Regions from separate parts of the Homo sapiens genome. Here all the other regions are linked to region 3. Evidence: fine-mapped QTL for protein levels in blood plasma. Region 3 holds a variant in brackets. A gene starts in each other region. All regions are shown on their reverse strands.

Region 1 (6,481 bases), not on the chromosome of region 3:
CAGGTCCTGCGGGAGCCCCAGCCTGGGTGTGGGCTGACCCATTCCCGTCTCGCAGACCAGGACGGTGACAAGCAGCTCTCTGTGCCCGAGTTCATCTCCCTGCCCGTGGGCACCGTGGAGAACCAGCAGGGCCAGGACATTGACGACAACTGGGTGAAAGACAGAAAAAAGGAGTTTGAGGAGCTCATTGACTCCAACCACGACGGCATCGTGACCGCCGAGGAGCTGGAGGTGAGCCCTGGCGCAGCCGTGTCCCGGAGCCGGCCCTGCGAGGTGCTGTGGCGGGAGGGGCTGGTGGATCTGGGCCTGAGGCAGGAAGCTGTGCTGGTGTCTGGCCTGAGACTCCATCTGGGCTGGTCACTGGGGCGTTTGCTCAGCGGTGTCCACCAGGCTGCATGGCCGTTGTTGGCGTTTAGGTTCAGACGGATCAGAGACAGGCGAGCCTGGCCGGGCTCCATCCTCAGCCCCTTGCGGAGGCGTCAGGGTTCTCACAGCCCCTTTTTAACGGGACCACAAGGGGAAGCTCATGCTGGGCCCAGCATGGAGGCAGGTCCAAGGCCCAGCAGGTGCAGGTGGGCGGGGCGGCCTGTGCCACATGGCTGGAATTTACCACCTTCCTCTGAAGCGTTTTCACTGGTATCATGTGTAGGCTTGTTTTTCTCCCACTGCTGAGTGAGTCATCTTGTTTTTATGTAGAATCCTGTGATTCCTGGCGACAGCCAGTGGGCCCGGCCCAGGTTAGGGATCCTTCAGAACTGGGGTCCAGGCCTGTGTAGCCCCTGTGCCCCGTTACCCCTGCTGGCCCCGGGCAGGCCTTCCGGGGCCCCCGGCTTCTCCCTGCCCTGTGTTTTCATTTGTGCCGCCTCCCTTCGGGAACCTTCCAGAACGTGCCCACACTCCCGCTGCAGCCAATAGGCACCTTAAATAGCCACTTCGTGCGGCTGGCCGCGGAGCTCGGAGGGGGAAAGGCGACGCTGACCTGTGCCCCGCTCGCCCGCAGAGCTACATGGACCCCATGAACGAGTACAACGCGCTGAACGAGGCCAAGCAGATGATCGCCGTCGCCGACGAGAACCAGAACCACCACCTGGAGCCCGAGGAGGTGCTCAAGTACAGCGAGTTCTTCACGGGCAGCAAGCTGGTGGACTACGCGCGCAGCGTGCACGAGGAGTTTTGAGCGCCCGGCCGCGCCCCGCGCCGCCCCCCACGCACCACCGGGGCGGCCTCGCGGGTGACTCCGGGCTCCGTGGCTGTCCCGGACCCCACCTCTTCCCTGCCGCCCGCCACCGGCCGACCGACCGCGGCTGCCCCAGTTGATGAGCGGCGTGTCCCCTCTGCAGCGCGCACCCCGGCGGGGCTTTGGCTGTGACGCGGTCGGGGCGCGGGGCTGGGCTGTGGCCCCGCGGCGCCGCCTCCTCCCTGGTCCCTCGAAATCGTGGCATCTCACTTCTGAGAACGAAATCTCGCTTCAGTCACTCTGCCGAAGGCGCTGACGGCATCGCGGCCGGAACCTCTGGGCCCGGCCCCTCCCAGGGCCGCCGCTCCGTGGGAAAAAACAGCTCCTCCATTTCCTTGAAAACTGAACGATTATTAAAAATAGATTAAACTTCGCTGGAAATGAGTAGCCAGGAAGTTCAGGGGAGGGTGCCGGGTCCTTCCCGGGCCTGGCGTGTCGGAGCCACCCAGGTCCCGCAGCTGCCGCTGAGAAAATGCAAATATTTGTTGTGACAAGAATCACATACATTTACTTTAAATATAGTTGCCTTTTTTGGTCAGCTTCATTCTTTGGGCGTGAAACAAAACACAACAGCAGCGTGCTAGGTTTGTGGTTACAGTTTCCACTGGAGCGCTGGAGGCTGGTGCTGGGTCACGTGGAGGGTTGGAGGTCATGGCCGGTTCGAGGTGATTCTCCTGGCAGGTGGCAACGGGCAGGGGCTCTGGGAGGACGGAGGGCAGCGCTGCGTTTGTGAGTAGGGGTCAGGGGGCAGCAGACGTGCCCACTGAGTTTGGGGTTTGGACATTTAAGGCAGGAGACAGAGCCGCCTGGGGGTTTTGGGTGGAGGATGGCAAGGTCTTTGGGTGCAGTGGGGCAGGCCTAGCCCCAGATGGGGCAGAGAATGGGGTGTGTTAGGACGGCTGGTGGGGGTCCTGCTCTGTGGCGTGTGGGGGCCCAGGCTGTGTCCTGGCTCTCCCAGTGGGAGCTCAGGGAAGCCGGGAGTGTGTCCTCTTCAGTCTGCCCTGTGGTGCCCATGTGACCGGCCTCTGCCCTGAGCCCACCTGCCCAGGGGCCCCTGTGGGGCCGAGAGGGCGGGTTGGCACCTGGGCTGGTTCCCAGGCAAACGAGATTCACAGAGCCACGGCCAGCGCAGGTGGTGGGAGGATGGTCCCACGCCCTGCTCTAAGGGGCTGTAATTCCCTGGAGCCAACCTTCGGTGGCCTGGACTCTGTCTTTCCCCATCCGTGGCCCCAGGCCACAGCCAGGGACCATCATAGCTGCAGCAGCATTCGACGCCCTGTGCTGAGGGCCGTGCACCCAGAGGTGGGAGGTGTGAGCTGAGGCCATGCTGTGCTGGACATGAAGGCGGGGGGACAGCTGGGTATGTGGTGGCACCTGGCCCTTCAGAGGCCCCAGCCAGCTCCAGTCTGGTACTGGAGGAGCAGTGGCCACTCATGGGCTGCCCTGTGCCGCCCGCGACACTACTGTGTGGAGCGGGGAGCCCAGCTCCTGGGGATGTGGTTCGAGCTGCAGGCTGCCTTACAGACCTTGGGGGTCCTGAGCTCTGGGTCAGTGTCCAGCCTCCTGTGGCCACGCCACACCCGGTTCCATGGACACAGCAGGGCTTTCTTGGACCTGTGACCTTAAGCCCAGGACAAGGAGACCTGAGCTTCCTGGGCAGCTTCAAGCAGGAGGGGCCGTGCCCCATCCTGGGGCCATTGCAGTTGCCAGCAATATGCTGGGGGTGCCCTCTCCATGGTGCACGGGCCCCACTCACTGCACCTGTGGGCAGATGTGGCCACTTAGGCCCCAGGAGAGCAGTGTTGCCCACCAAGACCCCCAGTTCACCTGAACCTCCAAGGAACCAATTGCAAATGTAAGCTTTTTCTCACTGTCAGTGGGAAACCCTTGTGAACGCTGGGTGGAACCTTCCACAAAATGCCAGAACTTTCCTCCTCTGCCCACCTGGGTTGGGGTGTGCACATGCAGGTACACACACTGTCTGGGATGCTCTGAGCCCTTCCAGGGTCCTCTCTACTTGTGGGGACGTGGGGAGGGTGACCAACTTAGGGACCCTCAGTCCGAGGGCGGGTGGCCTCTCCCTCCACTCCCTCCCTCTCCAGGGCCAGCGGGCTCCACGGCTGGGAATTTCCCCACGGGTGGGCCGAGGACAGGCAGCTGTTTCCTGTGCTCCTGGGAGGAGGGGATTTCCAGCCCCTTCCCTGCTGCTCTGTTCCTAGAGGCCCCTCTCCACTTGCAACTTCAAAAATGAACTTTTGGATAATCACAGGCTGGTCACAGTTATTTGAAAGGTGCAGAAAGGGCCCAGGGAGCCCCCAGCCCCGCACCTGCTCCCCAGCTCTCCGGGCAGTTCGCATCCTCTGGGCAAACCTGGAACCTGAGAACTGTTTGCATAGAAGGTGGAAACCTGCCTGCGTGCCCGTGTGCGCCAGGCCATCCAGGACCCACCCTCACCACCTCCTCAGAGGCCTGTCTCCAAACACTGCCACATGGGGGTTAGGGCTTCCACGCAGGAATTTAAGGGGCACAGTTCAGCCATAGACACCTGCCGTGCTCAGGCACACTCAGCGTGGGCTGTGGTCACGGGTGTCTTTTTTTTTTTTTTTGAGATGAGTCTCGCCCTGTCGCCCAGGCTGGAGTGCAGTGGCGCCACCTCTGCTTTGCAACTTCTGTCTCCTGGGTTCGAGTGATTCTGCTACCTCAGCCTCCTGACTAGCTGGGATTACCGGCGCCCGCCACCACGCCCGAATAATTTTTGTAGTTTTAGTAGAGACGGGATTTCGCCATGTTAGCCAGACTGGTCTTGAACTCCTGACCTCAGGTGATCCACCCGCCTTGGCCTCCCAAAGTGCTGGGATTACAGGCGGGAGCCACCGTGCCTGGCCATGGGTGTCTGTCTTACCATGGCTGTGGTCACTGCTGCTCAGAGCTAGTCTTGGGCATACAAGGGGGACCATGCTTCAGCAGTGCCACAGCCCTGAAGGTCCAGACTGAGGAGTTGCCTCTCCTGACTCAGTGCTGCCTCAGTTTACCCACGTGCTCCATGGACCTTTTTGCTGAGGGTCGAGCCGCAGGCCAGGCCCTACTGTGCCCTGGGGTCTGAACACGGTGGTCTTGGGCAGAAGAGGTCAGAAGGCAGAATAAGCCAATGCTGGGGGTGCCCAGACCCCGCCTTTGTGCCCAGCCCACAGCCAGGGTCCCCGGCCTGCCACCTTCCTCCTCCCGCCTCCTCTGCCCTCCTCCCCTCTCCCCTCCCCTCCTCCACAGTCCTTATAGCCACACCCCGCAAGGAAAACCCAGACTCTGGCGACAGCAGAGACGAGGATGTGCGTGGGGGCTCGGCGGCTGGGCCGCGGGCCGTGTGCGGCTCTGCTCCTCCTGGGCCTGGGGCTGAGCACCGTGACGGGGCTCCACTGTGTCGGGGACACCTACCCCAGCAACGACCGGTGCTGCCACGAGTGCAGGCCAGGTGAGGCCTCAGGAGGGGTCGCCACGCACGGGCACTCCAGGGACTGGGGGCTGGGGCAGGGATGGGCCAGCCAGGAGGCTGGTCCTGGGGAGGGGGCGGGTGAGGGGCCGGCCAAGCCTGGCAGAGGAGCCGCCTGGGGGGGTCCACGGGCGCAAGCCTGGGGCCTGACCGCTGCCTGACGCCGGCCTCTGCTGCAGGCAACGGGATGGTGAGCCGCTGCAGCCGCTCCCAGAACACGGTGTGCCGTCCGTGCGGGCCGGGCTTCTACAACGACGTGGTCAGCTCCAAGCCGTGCAAGCCCTGCACGTGGTGTAACCTCAGTGAGCTCCCACCTGGCCCCACAGCCCCACCCAGCACAGGGGGCGGCAGCCTGGCACCCACATTCCCACGCAGCAGCATGGGGCTCCCACAGCCGCAGAAACGAACCTCAAACCACAGCGGGGTCTGCTCCGCCACAGGGGTCCTTCGAGGAGCTGAGGCGTCTCCCAGGGGCACCCCCTCTCCCTCCGGGGGCCCAGACTCGGCCCAGGCCACGTGGAGTCGGGGAGACCACGCTGGCCATGTGGCCTGGCCTTGCTGGCCTGAGCAGTGAGGCTGGGGGGTTGGGCCATGGAGACCCTGCCGCAGGCGGGGCTGGCGGCTGGAGGCGGTGGAGGGGTAGGGAAGGGTGGCTGGGGCTGCCACGGAACCAGCCCCAGGTTGTGGCCAGGAAGGGAGGGCCCAGGAGCCTCGGGGGCTGCAGGGGCTCCAAGTCTCAGGGGAGGCCGCAGACCCCTGCCCACGGCCCTCTGTGTGGTGGGGAGGCCAACCTGTCCTCCAGTGCCCACGCTTCCTGAGGACCCTGTCCACAGCCCCCACCTGACCACCCCCCCATCCGGCCCCTGCTCAGGAAGTGGGAGTGAGCGGAAGCAGCTGTGCACGGCCACACAGGACACAGTCTGCCGCTGCCGGGCGGGCACCCAGCCCCTGGACAGCTACAAGCCTGGAGTTGGTGAGCTCGGTGGCTGCGGCCGGCGGTTGGGGGTGTGCATAGCGGCTGTCTGTGACGCAGATGGGCCGTGGGCCGCAGGGACCTGGCCCCACCGGTGCCTCCTCTGGCATCCTCAAGACCGAGCTCCCGGGTCAGGGCCCACGGGTGGGATGTGGGCAGGGAGGGCTTCCAGAGGCCAAACCCACCACCCAGCCATGGGGGGCAAGTGCCTGCCCCACAGGCTCTGCCCCATGTCCCCAGCACCCGGGGCCTGTGGGCAGCCCCTGACCACCCTATCTTTGTTGCAGACTGTGCCCCCTGCCCTCCAGGGCACTTCTCCCCAGGCGACAACCAGGCCTGCAAGCCCTGGACCAAGTGAGGGGCCTGGCCAGGGGCTGGGAGGGGCTGGGGGGGGGTTGGGGTGGTTAGGAGGGCGGAGGAGCTGGGGAGCTGGGAGGGGCTGGGGGGGCAGGTGGGGTGGGGGCAGTTTTGGGGGAAGGGGAGGTGCTGGTGGCCCTGGGGGCCTGGCTATGTGGCTGGACCTGGTTGGGGAGCAGGAAGCTGCTGCCTGGGGGCAGCCTTTCCCTGTGGGTGGAGCTGGGTGTGTGGGACCCTCACCCTCCGCAGCTGGGAGGCCCTGGGGGCACAGGACAGGGAGGTGCTGGTGGGGGGTGTAGATGTGGGAGAAGGGTGTGTGGCCTTGGAGGCCCCTGTGGGGGGCACGTGGGGCTGGGCAGCGTCCTTGGCTGTCACTGGCCTGGTGTCTGTGGTAGATGCTGCCTGTGGCTGGCCAGCGTGGACCCTG
Region 2 (6,401 bases), not on the chromosome of region 3:
ACTTGGACTCGTCACAGGGCAGGCAGACCAGCGCCCGGGTGCCGGAGCGCGCCAGCAGCAGCAGCAGCCCCAGCAGCGAGACCAGGAGGTGCCCGCAGCCGGCCAACCCCCTGTCCCCCGCCACCAAGTACATCCTCCTGCGCCGCCGCCGCCTCCTCCTCGCAGCCGGGCCGGGAGCGGGGCGGGCGCCCTCCCCTGCGCGGGGCACACGCGCCGCCGCCGCCGCACCAGCAGCCCGCGGTCCTCACCGCCCCTCTCGGGGCCCCCGGGGCGCGCCTCCCCTCGCGGGGCGAGGCCCCCGCCCCTTCTGCGGGCCGCGCCGACCCCGAGCCCACGAGCCTTGGCGCCGGCGGCAGCTTCCCCTCCTCCTCCTCCTCCTCCTCCCGGGAGGGAGGGGGAAAAAAGAAAAAAGTTTCCTCCCGGCAGCTCCGGTTCAACCCAAACTTCTGGCGCGGCGGCGGCGGTGGCTGCTGCGCTCGGCTCCAGCCCGGGCCGGCGGCGCCTCCTCCCTCTCCTCCTCCGAGTCGGCCGGCCCCGCAGCGGCGCAGCCTCCGGGCCGGTCCCCGCCTCCCGAGCTGCCGAGTGGGCGCGGTGGCGCAGCACAAGATCCGCGGCGTCCGCTCCGCGCGCCCCGCTCGCCTCACTCCTGCGCCGCTCCTCCGGGCGCTTGTTTATGGCTGGAGCCTCAGCCGCTCGGGCTGCGCCCTCCCCCATCCTACCTCCTCCCCCAGACCTTCCCCCCACCCCCACGCGCCGCGCGCCGCTCATTGGCTGCCCCCCCTCCCCGGCCCGGCCGGCCCCCTCCGCCTCCCCCTCCCCCTCTCGGGCGGCCGGGCCCTTCCTCCCTCCCTCACACGCCTCCACCTCTTCCCGATCTCCTCCTCCCCGAGCCCGGCGCACCGAGCCGGCCGTGCCACCGAGCTGCGGCTCTGGCCCCGGCGCCGCGGGTGCGCTGCGGATGGGCTTGGGGCGCACCCAGCGAGCAGCGAGAGTCGCGGTGTCCCGGGCGCTCGCTGGCACCGTGGCCGCAGCGGCCGGCCTGGGAGCCAGGAGGGCGAGGCGGCTGCACCTTCGGGGCCAGATTGGAGTTCGAAGAGTGGCGGGTACCCCAGAAGCTCGGGGCCGGGGCGATGGCTGCAGCCTCGGGAGGGTATCGCCGGATCGAACTCCGGGAAAGGGAAGCAAAGGCATGGAACCTCCGCACACTGGATGAGAATCCATCTTCCATTCGAGCTGGGAATAGACTTTGTGAAAGATATTATGTAATGGAGTCTCGGGAACCCTGAGACCTCTCCAGCGAAGCTGAAGTGAATTAATTAAGTGCTTTAAACGGTCTTGGTAAATATTCCGCGGGAGCTGGGGAGGACCGTTGGGATGGCTGTAGCTTGAGTTGAATTTTAACTGTCCTCATTCTGGGTTTTGTCGCTCTGCTTTCTGTGCCAAGGTGCTGTGTTACGGGAGAGAGTGACTGGAAAGTAACAAAGCTGAATCTTTCTCCCTGGAGTAAGGCCGAAGACTGGATTACTACACGCCTAGACGTGACACTACACCCATAGATCTCATGCATCATTAATGCCATATGACATTGCCATTTTCTTTCTCAGTTCACGGACAAAAGTGGTGGGTTTTCATTGTCTTCACTGATTGTCAATGCATTAATAAAGAAGATGTGTGGTACATAGTCTTTGTGATAAATCAGGTAAAGAAGCAACGGAAGTGATGCAAAATGCACGGTGTGGAGATGGTTTCTCTTCAGTGGTTGTCAGAAAAGGTTTTCGTAATGATGGCTCTGTCATTGATGGGATATGAAGTAGTAATCCGCTCCGTAGTGACCTACCATTCACAAGATGGGTACCAGGTGAATAACATTAATTAATTGACAAAAAGTGACTGTGGTCAATGGGGGAAAAAATCGATCCCGTGGCAGGTGTGACGTGGGAATGGCTGGCCCACCCTCTGATCCAAGATGGTCTGGCTGCAGGAAGGTGGCAGCCAAGTGGATTCTGAAAATCGTGACTAATGAACCGAAAGTTAATAGCTGGCAGTGCAAGGAAAGAGGAAACAAAGCTACCTTTGAAATGTTATGTTTGTGGAACAAATTCATACTTACGATAAATATTTTAGTTTAACCACTCTGTCTAATCCTGAACCCAAAAGCCAGAGTTACCAGTGGACTATTCCCCCATGATGGGCATCAGCAAACTAAACATTTCTCCTATCATATTTCTTTGTCCAAGGAGAGGAAGAGGCTCATTAATTATCATTGATTATTATAGGGCCATGAGGAAGATGTTCAACCGTGGAAAAGGGGAGAGAGCATTGCATTTTCTAGACGGGTTTAAAGAGTTGTTGCAATGAAATGATTCCTGTAGTTGGGTGGGAAGTCCGATTAGATGATCTCCAAAGGCCCTCATACCCTGTGGGTCCATAATAAGTGTTAAGTGGCAAAATCGTTTAAAATATGCTAGGTTTTCTATTAGAAAAACCGAAGAGACTGGGCGTGGTGGCTCATGCCTATAATCCCAGCACTTTGGGAGGCCAAGGTGGGCAGATCACTTGAGGTAAGGAATTCGAGACCAGCCTGGCCAACATGGTGAAACATGGTGAAACCCTGTCTCTATCAAAAATACAAAAATTAGCCGGGTGTGGTAGCGCATGCCTGTAATCCCAGCTACTCAGGAGGCTGAGGCAGGAGAATCACTTGAACCCAGGAGGTGAAGGTTGCAGTGAGCCGAGATTGCGTCATTGCACTCCAGCCTGGGCGACAGAGCAAGACTCTGTCTCAAAAACAAACAAACAAAAAAACTGAAGAAAAATAAAACACACATTGTTAAACATTGTTCTTTCTTGTCACCGAACAAGGCACCAGCACTTCAGTGTGGGATTTGCCAACAAACTGTCATCATTGCTCTGTGTTAAAAGGTCCCTCCCACTCTTGCAGAGGAGGTTATCTGTATTTCTGTTCAAATGCAAGTATAAAGACATTAAAATGTAGCAGATAACATTGTAGGACCTGCAGGAAAAGCCAAGGTCAGGTGATGAGAAAAAGGCAGAAGTGAGAAAGCTACTGTGGTTAGGAAAGAAGGAGGTAATAAGCATTGTCAAAGTTTAGCTTCTATTTATTTTTAAGGGGATATATTAAGGATTAAGGAAAGCTACAGATGAGCACAGGCAAAGGATAATTTGGAGATGACTATTCATTGTTCCTGGGACTTCAGAAGTAGAACCACCTGGAAGGTAGATGGACAGATACAACATGAGAAAGGTTGACTTCTCACAGGAATTCAAGTCAGGTTTAGAAAGGACTAGGGAGATTCTTTAAGATGAAGATGATTGTATCAGCTCAAAAAGAAAAAAAAAATCAAGTTACATTACACATGCCCTTTGGCATAAAATTAATAGTCATAGAAGCAATAGAGAAAATAGGATTCCTTGAAGCCAGTGACTAGTGGCGAATGAGAAACCTGCAAGGTCCTGGCAGCTTTTCTGAAACCAGTGTGTGAATCAGGAGCTCAGTTATGAAACAGCTCTTTCTTCTCTGGGATCCAGGAGGGATGATAATGAGGTAGTGAGAAGCTGAGGCAATGATACTGAGGCTCGAATACAAAAGTATTTTCTTATCTTCAAAGACCAGACTATGGTTACAGAAAGAGTTTGGGTGAGCCCAACATGATGACAATCAGGTGTCACGGGTGAAAGTGGACTAGGAAGAATTACCCTGAAATTGAATGGACCCTGAAAGTCATGAACGAATGTTAAGAATTAGAGCCACACATGAAAGGCCTCCCTTTCTGAGAAGCCTTCTTGAGCTTCTTTATCTGTTCTACAGCATTTGTAAGTACCTCTGCTTGTAGCATTTATCATGTTACATTATAGTTATTTAAATAACTCTGAACCCAATTAGCTTGTCAGCTTATTGGAGAGGGCAGGATTTATAAAAATGCATGCATGAATGAGTTGAAAAAGGGAGAGTGAAGAATTACAGTCAAAATGATATTTGAATATTATTGTCTGCAGCCCTTCTCTCTTGGTTTTAGTAAATACCTCAAAATCAGTACTTGAAAGGGATGGTATGGGCAGGAGGGAGTCATCGAAGTTTGGGGTGGGGGTGGTGGGGGGGTGGGGGAGGGGTTGGGGAACAGGTCTGCAACGAACCAGGAATTACGAAGTATTTCTGATGGAGGTCTAGAAGAAGAGATCGTCTGCCCTCTATTGGCCATCCTGGGGATTAATAAATTGTTGAAAATGTCGAAAATCAAAGTGCCCATTTGTTGGCCTAAGCAGAAAGTGGAAATGAGAGGGCAATAGACAGAATGTTAGTATTAGACCCCGCCTTTCCGATACAGTGTCTAGTCCACCTATAGTCACACTCTGTATTTTCTCTTCCTGAAATGAAAAGAAAAATGTAGAAGTTGCCTTTGAGTTTGGCTCACATACTCTTGGAATTGAGTTGCACTTTGTATTTTCTCTTCCTGAAATGAAAAGAAGAATGTAGAAGTTGCCTTTGAGTTTGACTCACATACTCTTGGAATTGAGTTGCACAAGAGAAGAAACCTCATTGTGTTATGAAAACGTTGCATACATATTAGAAAGTGGTACGAATAAACCAGGGTAGCAGGTCTGGCCCGTTTTACCCTCTTAGGCCATCTCTCTGGTCTCCTCAGCTGGGATCACCTATATATGGGTTCTCACTTAATCTAGGCTTGGCACTGCAGTGATATAGACAGACCCTAGTTTGGAGGCTCAACCATCTGGATGTTGGACTCTTAATCTGAAATTGAACTCTATTATCACCACGTAATACCTTATTTTTGCTAAGTGGGTTCTTATTTACTCTGCCTGTGAATGATAGCTGCTGCAGAACTACCACAAGGTTTACAAGACATCTGCACAGAACACAGGTTCTCTTTGATGTTTGGCCTAGGATCCTGACACACACACACACACACACACACTCTCTCTCTCTCTCTCTCTCTCTCTCTCTGTGTACAAGTTTAAACAAGGTATTTATCCTTTCTGAATCTGTCTTCTCTGTAAAACAGAGACAAGAATACCAACCATACAGGGTATCGTGTGGATAAAATGATTGCTCTCCTTTTCTATTGTTATTTTTAGAGTCCTTCTAATTGAGTGTCTCCTCAAGTTTTATGCTTGAGCTGGAATCCCTGCTCTCTGTTATCTTAGCATCCATTGCTGTGCAACATCTGCTGGATCAGATATTTGCTTTTTTTTTTTTCTTTCTTAGGATCTTCTGTTGGCCTTGTTTTGACAGTCTGTCTCATCTTGGGGTTTTAGCCTCTGTGATATTTTCTCAGACTCATTTTGGTCTCTGACTTATTTTAAAGAGCAGTAATTGGTAATGATAATAGTAATAGCTGACACTAATAAAGATCTTATTAATTGCTAGTCAACATGCTAAGTGCTTCATATAGGTTATTTTAAGTAATCTACGGAAGAGCGCTGTAAGACCAATGGTTTCTATTATCTCTAGTGCCTTACGTTGTCTTCATTTTTTACAGGTGAGGAATCTGAGTTATAGGAGGTTGTGTGGCTTGTCAAGGTCTCAGAGCTATGTGTATGGATATTAAGCTTAGAACTCAGTCCTATTCTGCCTTAAGGGCCTGTGTGTTTAACTACCTCAATTCAGTAAGTTGGGTAATGGTGAGCTGCTTTTCTTTTCAGTTTTGTTGTTTTTTGTGGACCTCATTTAAAATTGCTAACATCTATGACAATATCTTGTCTTCTTTGAGAAGTTTAAATACTGATCAGCGTTTTCTCAAAATGGAAATAAGATCATTGCTTTCCTAACTACTGAATAACAAATATTTATGTAACGTTTGCCATGTGCATATTTTTTAATTACCTTACAATATTACCACATTTAATCCTCCATAAAAGCTGATGAGGTAGGTACTGCATTTTACAGGTACATTTACACCTATTTAAAAGGAAAAATTGGGGTGGGTGCGGTGGCTCATGCCTGCAATCTCAGCACTTTGGGAGGCCAAACTGGGTGGATCGCTGGAGCCCAGGAGTTTGAGACCAGCTTAGGCAACATAAGGAGAACCCATATCTACAAAATAATAATAATAATGAACTAGCCAGGCATGGTGGGATGTGCCTGTATTCAGGAGGCTAAGGTGGCAGGATTGCATGAGCTTGTGAAGTTGAGGCTGAGGTGAGCCGAAATTACACCACTGCCTTCCAGGCTGGGTGACAGAGTGACACACTGTCTCTTACTTTTCCAGTAAAGGAAAAATTGGAATTCAAACCTAGGCAGTATGGGGACAGAATCCACTCTATGCAATATTACTTCTAATGTATGTTTTTTAACAAATACATGCTCACTGGGGGAAAAAAGAGAAAAGACAGACAAGTAAAAAAGAAAAAAAGAAGAAAGA
Region 3 (6,520 bases):
CTCACATTCAAAGCCATCCTGGGCCGAATTTAGCCCGCAGCTGCAGGTTGGAAAAGCTTGCTCTAGAGCGTCCAAAAGGAACCAGCTCTGCCAACATCTTGATGTTAACCTTGTAAGACGTTCTAGACTCCTGGCCTCCACAACTGTTAAGAGAATAAATGTGCTTTAAGCCACTAAGTTTGTCACAATCTATTACATCAGCAATTGGAAACAAATACAGCTGCCCTCTTGTCCCCTTGAAATCCTTGTCAGATATGTGTCCATTTTTATACGATCAGTACAGTTTTTATGTGTAAAAGTGTATAGCATAGAAGGAAGGCTTATGGATACAGTAGCCAGTTTATCCTGGTTTGCACAGAACTCTCCTGGTTTTAGGACTGAAAACTCCTCATTCTGGGAATACTCCACGTCCTGGGCAGACTGGGGCAGTTGATCACTCTGAATCCTAGCTGCATTGCCTATTTAGTTCTGTAGCATTCAGCAAATTACTTAACTTTCTCTGTGCCTCAGTTTCCTTATCTGCAAAATGGGCATAATAACAGGGTTGCTGTGAGAGTGAATTGGGTTAATACATGTAACAGTGCCTTGCCCACAGTAAATGCCTAGTAATCTTAGGCTTATTATGATGTAAGACGAGGTGTGGTGGAGAAATTTCTGGAGTTGGCCAGGCACGGTGGCTCATGCCTGTAATCCCAGCACTTTGGGAGGCCAAGGTGGAGGATCATTTGAGGTCAGGAGTTCAAGACCAGCCTGACCAACATGGTGAAACCCTGTTTCTACTAAAAGTACAAAAATTAGCCAGGCATGGTGGCAGGCACCTGTAATCCCAGCTACTTGGGAGGCTGAAGCATGAGAATCACTTGAACCTGGGAGGCAGAGGTTGCAGTGAGCCAAGATCACAGCACTGCACTCCAGCCTGGGTGACAGAGCGAGACCTTGTCTCAAAAACAAAAAAAGAAAAAAAGAAATTTCTGGAGTTGCTTCATTAGGAAGGAAATGTAGTGTTCCTGCCTTACCCATGAGGGATATGTTCCTAGATCCCCAGTGGATGCCTGAAGCCATGGGTAGCACTGAACCCTATATATATATATACACACACACACATATATACACACACACACATATATATATACACACATATATACATATATATACATATATATACATATACACATATATACATATATACACATATATATACATATACACATATATACATATATACATATATATACTATGCTTTTTCTTATACATAAATACTTATGATAAGGTTAATTTATACATTAGGCACAATAAGAGATTAACAATAGTAACTAATAAAAAATAGACAAGTATAACAATATACTGTCATAAAAGGTATGCGAATGTGATCTTTCTCTCAAAATATCTACTCAGCCTTCTTGTGATGAAGAAAGGCTCATGCAGATGGTGTGAGATTTCGTCACACGACTCAGAACAATGTGCAGTTTAAAACTTAGGAAATTGTGAATATACTTAAAAGTACTGCAAGAAATGAAAAAATAAAAAATTTATGAATTGGCCCGGCACGGTGGCTCACGCCTGTAATCCTAGCACTTTGGGAGGCTAAGGCAAGTGGATCACCTGAGGTCAGGAGTTTGAGACTAGCCTGGCCAATATGGTGAAACCCCGTCTCTACTAAAAATACAAAAATTAGGTGGGCGTGGTGGCTCATGCCTGTAATCCCAGCCACTTGGGAGGCTGAGGCAGGAAAATCTCTTGAATTCAGGAGGTGGAGATTGCAGTGAGCTGAGATTGCATCACTGCACTCCAGCCTGGGCGACAAAGTGAGACTCCATCTCAAAAAAAAAAAAAAATTGTTCATTTCTGAAATTTTCCATTTAGTATTTTTGGACTGTAGTCAACCATGGTAACTGAAACCTCAGAAAGTGAAATCACAGATAAAGGGGACTGGGGCCGGATGCGGTGGCTCACGCCTGTAATCCCAGCACTTTGGGAGACTGAGATGGGCAAATCACCTGAGGTTGGGAGTTTGAGACCAGCCTGGGCAACATGGTGAAACCCTGTCTCTACTAAAAATACAAAAATTAGCCAGGTGTGGTGGCGCATGCCTGTAATCCCAGCTCGGGAGGCTGAGGCAGGAGAATTGCTTGAACCCGGGAGGGAGGCAGAGGTTGCAGTGAGCTGAGATCGCACCACTGCACTCCAGCCTGGGCAACAGAGCAAAACCTCCATCTCAAAACAAAACAAAACAAAACAAAAAACTACTGCAGTTTTCCTGCAGATCTCAGGCCATGACTTGAATCTCTTTAAACATTTGTCTTTGTTTACCTTCTGATCACCAGGGGGTCCCTCCCTTCTCTCTGAGCCCATGAAGACTTGCTTCACTGGGGGCAATGTGACGCTTACATGCCAGGTGTCTGGGGCCTACCCCCCTGCCAAGATCCTGTGGCTGAGGAACCTTA[CCCAGCCCGAGGTGATCAT/T]CCAGCCTAGCAGCCGCCATCTCATTACCCAGGATGGCCAGAACTCCACCCTCACTATCCACAACTGCTCCCAGGACCTGGATGAGGGCTACTACATCTGCCGAGCTGACAGCCCTGTAGGGGTGAGGGAGATGGAAATCTGGCTGAGTGTGAAAGGTGAGTGGTGGAACTGGGCCTGAAGGAGGGAGGGTTCAGAGCTTCAGAGCACCCAGCATCAGCATGAGGACAGCCTGGTGCCTCCCTACACATGGGTCACTGCCAACTGGGAGAAGGCATATCTGCTTGCTTATGACTTGACAAGGTGGCTGGAAGAAATTATCCAACCCTAAACTCACTAATATTTCCATAGGTAGCAAAAATTACATAATATCTATACACACCAACGAATAGATATCTAGTGTATGTCAGTTGTAAAGCATAACAGCAAAATGAACACCTAAGAAACTATCATCCCACTGAGGATACAGAATAGTACCAACATGCATTAGGTTACTTGTATGTCTCAGGGCCAGATTTGGAAACAACGATAGGGCTGGGCACAGTGGCTCACGCCTGTAATCCCAGCACTTTGGGAGGCCGAGGCGGGTGGATCACTTGAGGCCAGGAGTTTGAGACCAGCCTGGCTAGTATGGTGAAACCTCGTCTTTACTAAAAATACAAAATTACTTGGGAGGCTGAGATGGGCAGATCACCTGAGGTTGGGAGTTCGAGACCATTAGCTGAGCATGGTGGCAGGTGCCTGTAATCCCAGCTACTCGGAAGTCTGAGGCAGAATTGCTTGAATCTGGGAGGCGAAGGTTGCAGTGAGCCGAGATCACACCACTGCACTTCAGCTTGGGTGACAGAGCGAGAATCCACTTCAAAAAGAAGAAAATAGCAATAGAACTTTAAAAACAGGATGCCTGCTTAAATTTGAGTTTAGAAAAATAAATACTTTTAAGTATAAGTGTGTCCCAAATATTTCATGAGACATACTTACACTAAAAAAACTATTCATTGTTTATCTGAAATCCAAATTTCACTGGGCATACTGAATTTTACCTGGGAACCCTCCCTGTAGGCCTAGTCTCATCTTGGGCCTCTCTCGAAAGGTAACCATGGTCCTGAATTTTAAGTTTTACTATATATGTCTCTACTTATTTCTTTTTATTTTATTTTTTATACAGATGAGGTCGCACTGTGTTGACCAGGTTGGTCTTGAACTCCTGGCCTGAAGTGAGCCTCCCATCTCAGCCTCCCAAAGTGTTGAGATTGCAAGCATGAGCCACCACACCTGGCCTCTTTCTTCCCTTCCCTTCTCCCTTTTCCTTTCTCTTCTCCCTTTTCCCTTTCCTACCTTCCTTCTTTTCTTTCCCTCCCCTCCCCTCCTCTTTCTTTCTTTTTTTTTTTTGAGACGGAGTCTTGCTCTGTCACCCAGGCTGGAGTGCAGTGGTGCGATCTCGGCTCACTGCAAGCTCCACCTCCTGGGTTCATGCCATTCTCCTGCCTCAGCCTCCCAAGTAGCTGGGACTGCAGGCGCCCGCCGCTGTGCCCGGCTAATTTTTTGTATTTTTAGTAGAGATGGGGTTTCACTGTGTTAGCCAGGATGGTCTCGACCTCCTGACCTCGTGATCCGCCTGCCTCGGCCTCCCAAAGTGCTGGGATTACAGGCGTGAGCCACCGCGCCCGGCCCTCTTTCTTTCTTTGAGATGGAATTTCGCTCTTGTTGCCCAGGCTGGAGTGCAATGGCGCGATCTTGGCTCACCGCAACCCCCGCCTCCCGGGTTCAAGTGATTCTCCTGCCTCAGCCTCCCAAGTAGCTGGGATTACAGACATGCACCACCACACCTGGCTAATTTTGTATTTTTAGTAGAGACGGGGTTTTAACATGTTGGTCAGGCTGGTCTCGATCTCCCGACTTCAGGTGATCCGCCCTCCTCAGCCTCCCAAAGTGCTGGGATTACAGGCATGCGCCACTGCGCCCGGGCTCTAGTACCAATTCTTAAATAGTGCTTCCTTTGCTCAAGACCCTGTCATATATCAATTATACTTACGTGTGGACCCGTTCCTGGACTCTCTGTTCTGTTCCGTTGATCACTCTGTTTATCATGGCATTGATAACTCTCAACACTCTTACTTACCATGGCCTTAGAAATAGTCTCAGTGTTTGGTAGACAGAGAGATTTTAACTTTCCATTGTTTGTTCACATTCCCTGCTCCATCTGATCCCCACAAACTCTCTGAGGTTGGGTGATAAAATATTTATCTGGCATTACAGACAGGTCATAAGCCTTACCCAAGGTCAGGAATCAAGACAAGAACTGGATCCACGCAGAGAAAGGGAGGTGTTGTTCTAATTGCACACATATCTGATGGAAGAATCAATGGTGTGATTTGTCTTTACAGAACCTTTAAATATCGGGGGGATTGTGGGAACCATTGTGAGCCTCCTTCTGCTGGGACTGGCCATTATCTCAGGGCTTCTGTTGCATTATAGCCCTGTGTTCTGCTGGAAAGGTAAGGACTCCCTGGGTCCTTTAGCTTCTCTTCCAGACTTTTGAAAAGGTGCGGGATGGGGAAGGATGGCCCCTGCCTTGCTCCCACCTGAAGTTCTGTTCTCTGGGCTTCTTTGCTGGGTCAAGATACACAGTAATAAGTCACCTAAGTACCATCCCGGGACACCCTATCACCTGTCATATTGAGTCAGTTTTCTTATTTGTTCCTCTAGTAAATGTTTGCCTGATTAAGAACCTGTCAGGTTGAAGTGGATGTTACTGGATATTAATGGTTTTTCCTTTCTCTCTTCAGTAGGAAACACTTCCAGGTGAGTGTTCCCTAGAATCAAACCAAACACCCATTCCCGCATCTGTCTTCACTTCTGTTTTGTTCCCTTCCTTTCACAAGAACAATAATAGCAACTACCATTGAGGACCTACGATGTGCTAGACACTGGCCTAGGGATTTCATCAGGTATTCTTATAAACCCTTTCATCATCTCCTCAGGGTGGTGGTGACATCTCCATTTTCCAGATAAGGGGATGGAGGCTCAGTGAAGTAATTTCTGCAAGCTCATTCCAGAAGAAAGCAGCAGTGCCTTCCTTCAGGTCCAGGTCTAATCAATTCCAAAGTCTGTGTTCTTTTACAGCGCCAAACCTCAGGGCTGGACACATTGCAGGTCTGTCATTGAGACAGAAAGACAATGTGTACATTTTGAGCCAGTCATTCATGCATTTGTTTTATTTAATTTTCTAAAAAGAGCTAAAAGAAAGAATCAGTCATAGTCTTAAGTTTTTTTTTCTTTTTCTTTTTTCTTTTTTTTTTTTTTTTTGAGACAGAATCTCTCTCTCTTGCTCAGGCTGGAGTGCAGTGGTGCAGTCTCAGCTCACTGCAATCCCTACCTCCCAGGTTGAGGCCATTCTCCTGCCTCAGCCTTCCGAGTAGTTGGGATTACAGGTGCGCACCATCAAGCCTGGCTAATTTTTGTATTTTTAGTAGAGACAGGGTTTCACCATGTTGCCCAGGCTAGTCTCAAACTCCTGGCCTCAAGTGGTCTGCCCGCCTCGGCCTCCCAAAGTGCCGGGATTACAGGCACGAGCCACTGCACCCAGCCAGTTTTACAGTGTTTTGGAAGACTACTATGAGCATGCCCAGAACCCCCTCCCAAAAGGAAACCCCAGTAGGGGCGAAGGAACCAAACGGAACTTGTGTATTTCATTTCCTAAGGAGATTCTGGGTGGGAGCAGAGTACTCTTCTCTATGATCCTATGGAAAAACAGTTCTTTACCTCTTCAAAATGACAGGATATTATTGACCTGGGACCATCTTTCGTAGCAAAACATTACCTTTACTGCCCTGTATTGGAGGGCCATTCTTAGTAAGTCTGTCATTCCCTGGGCTTATTTCTCACTGGAGGCATCAGTGTGGTGTAGTAGGAAAAGGCACTGAGACCATTGGACCTGGGTTCAAATGACAGCTGTGCCATTCCCAAGCCCTGTACCCATAGAAAATCCCTGACCCTTTCTGAGCCTTAGTCTCCTGATTTGTTTCACCAGGGGGTTTGTGAAGATTAAATGACAATG

Which allele goes with the higher level. Alleles are on the strand shown, and positions count from the first base shown. The strength of an association depends on the size of the effect and on how common the allele is.
With allele CCCAGCCCGAGGTGATCAT in place of T in region 3, the plasma level of the protein whose gene starts at base 4,536 in region 1 is higher (weak association).
As copies of CCCAGCCCGAGGTGATCAT replace T in region 3, the plasma level of the protein whose gene starts at base 648 in region 2 goes up (weak association).

What was found. PIP is the posterior inclusion probability: the model's chance that the variant is causal. Protein levels are from antibody-based Olink assays in UK Biobank. Linkage for the fine-mapping came from a reference panel and not from the study's own genotypes, which makes the PIPs less certain.
Region 1: it holds the start of TNFRSF4, and the variant in region 3 is fine-mapped to the plasma level of the TNFRSF4 protein (UK Biobank, PIP 0.95).
Region 2: it holds the start of CRIM1, and the variant in region 3 is fine-mapped to the plasma level of the CRIM1 protein (UK Biobank, PIP above 0.99).

Annotation. Positions count from the first base shown.
Region 1 is chr1:1,212,208-1,218,688 of GRCh38, reverse strand. It overlaps TNFRSF4 (TNF receptor superfamily member 4), which reads left to right and starts at 4,536. Exons shown (of 7, transcript NM_003327.4): 1 at 4,536-4,706; 2 at 4,904-5,026; 3 at 5,596-5,697; 4 at 5,985-6,051. The coding sequence starts at 4,562. SDF4 (stromal cell derived factor 4) reads left to right here. Exons shown (of 7, transcript NM_016176.6): 6 at 56-231; 7 at 1,001-1,758. The coding sequence ends at 1,177. RefSeq lists a silencer at 5,409-5,458.
Region 2 is chr2:36,350,025-36,356,425 of GRCh38, reverse strand. It overlaps CRIM1 (cysteine rich transmembrane BMP regulator 1), which reads right to left and starts at 648. Exons shown (of 17, transcript NM_016441.3): 1 at 1-648. The coding sequence starts at 133. It overlaps CRIM1-DT (CRIM1 divergent transcript), which reads left to right and starts at 856. Exons shown (of 2, transcript NR_037631.1): 1 at 856-1,338; 2 at 1,445-1,677.
Region 3 is chr12:118,069,797-118,076,316 of GRCh38, reverse strand. VSIG10 (V-set and immunoglobulin domain containing 10) reads left to right here. Exons shown (of 9, transcript NM_019086.6): 5 at 2,325-2,618; 6 at 4,848-4,958; 7 at 5,250-5,265. It overlaps LOC124903030 (a long non-coding RNA gene), which reads right to left. Exons shown (of 2, transcript XR_007063479.1): 2 at 1-143. Among named protein-coding and RNA genes, the nearest start is that of WSB2, 12 kb to the right of the region's middle. The variant CCCAGCCCGAGGTGATCAT/T (reference allele first, on the strand shown) is at 2,445.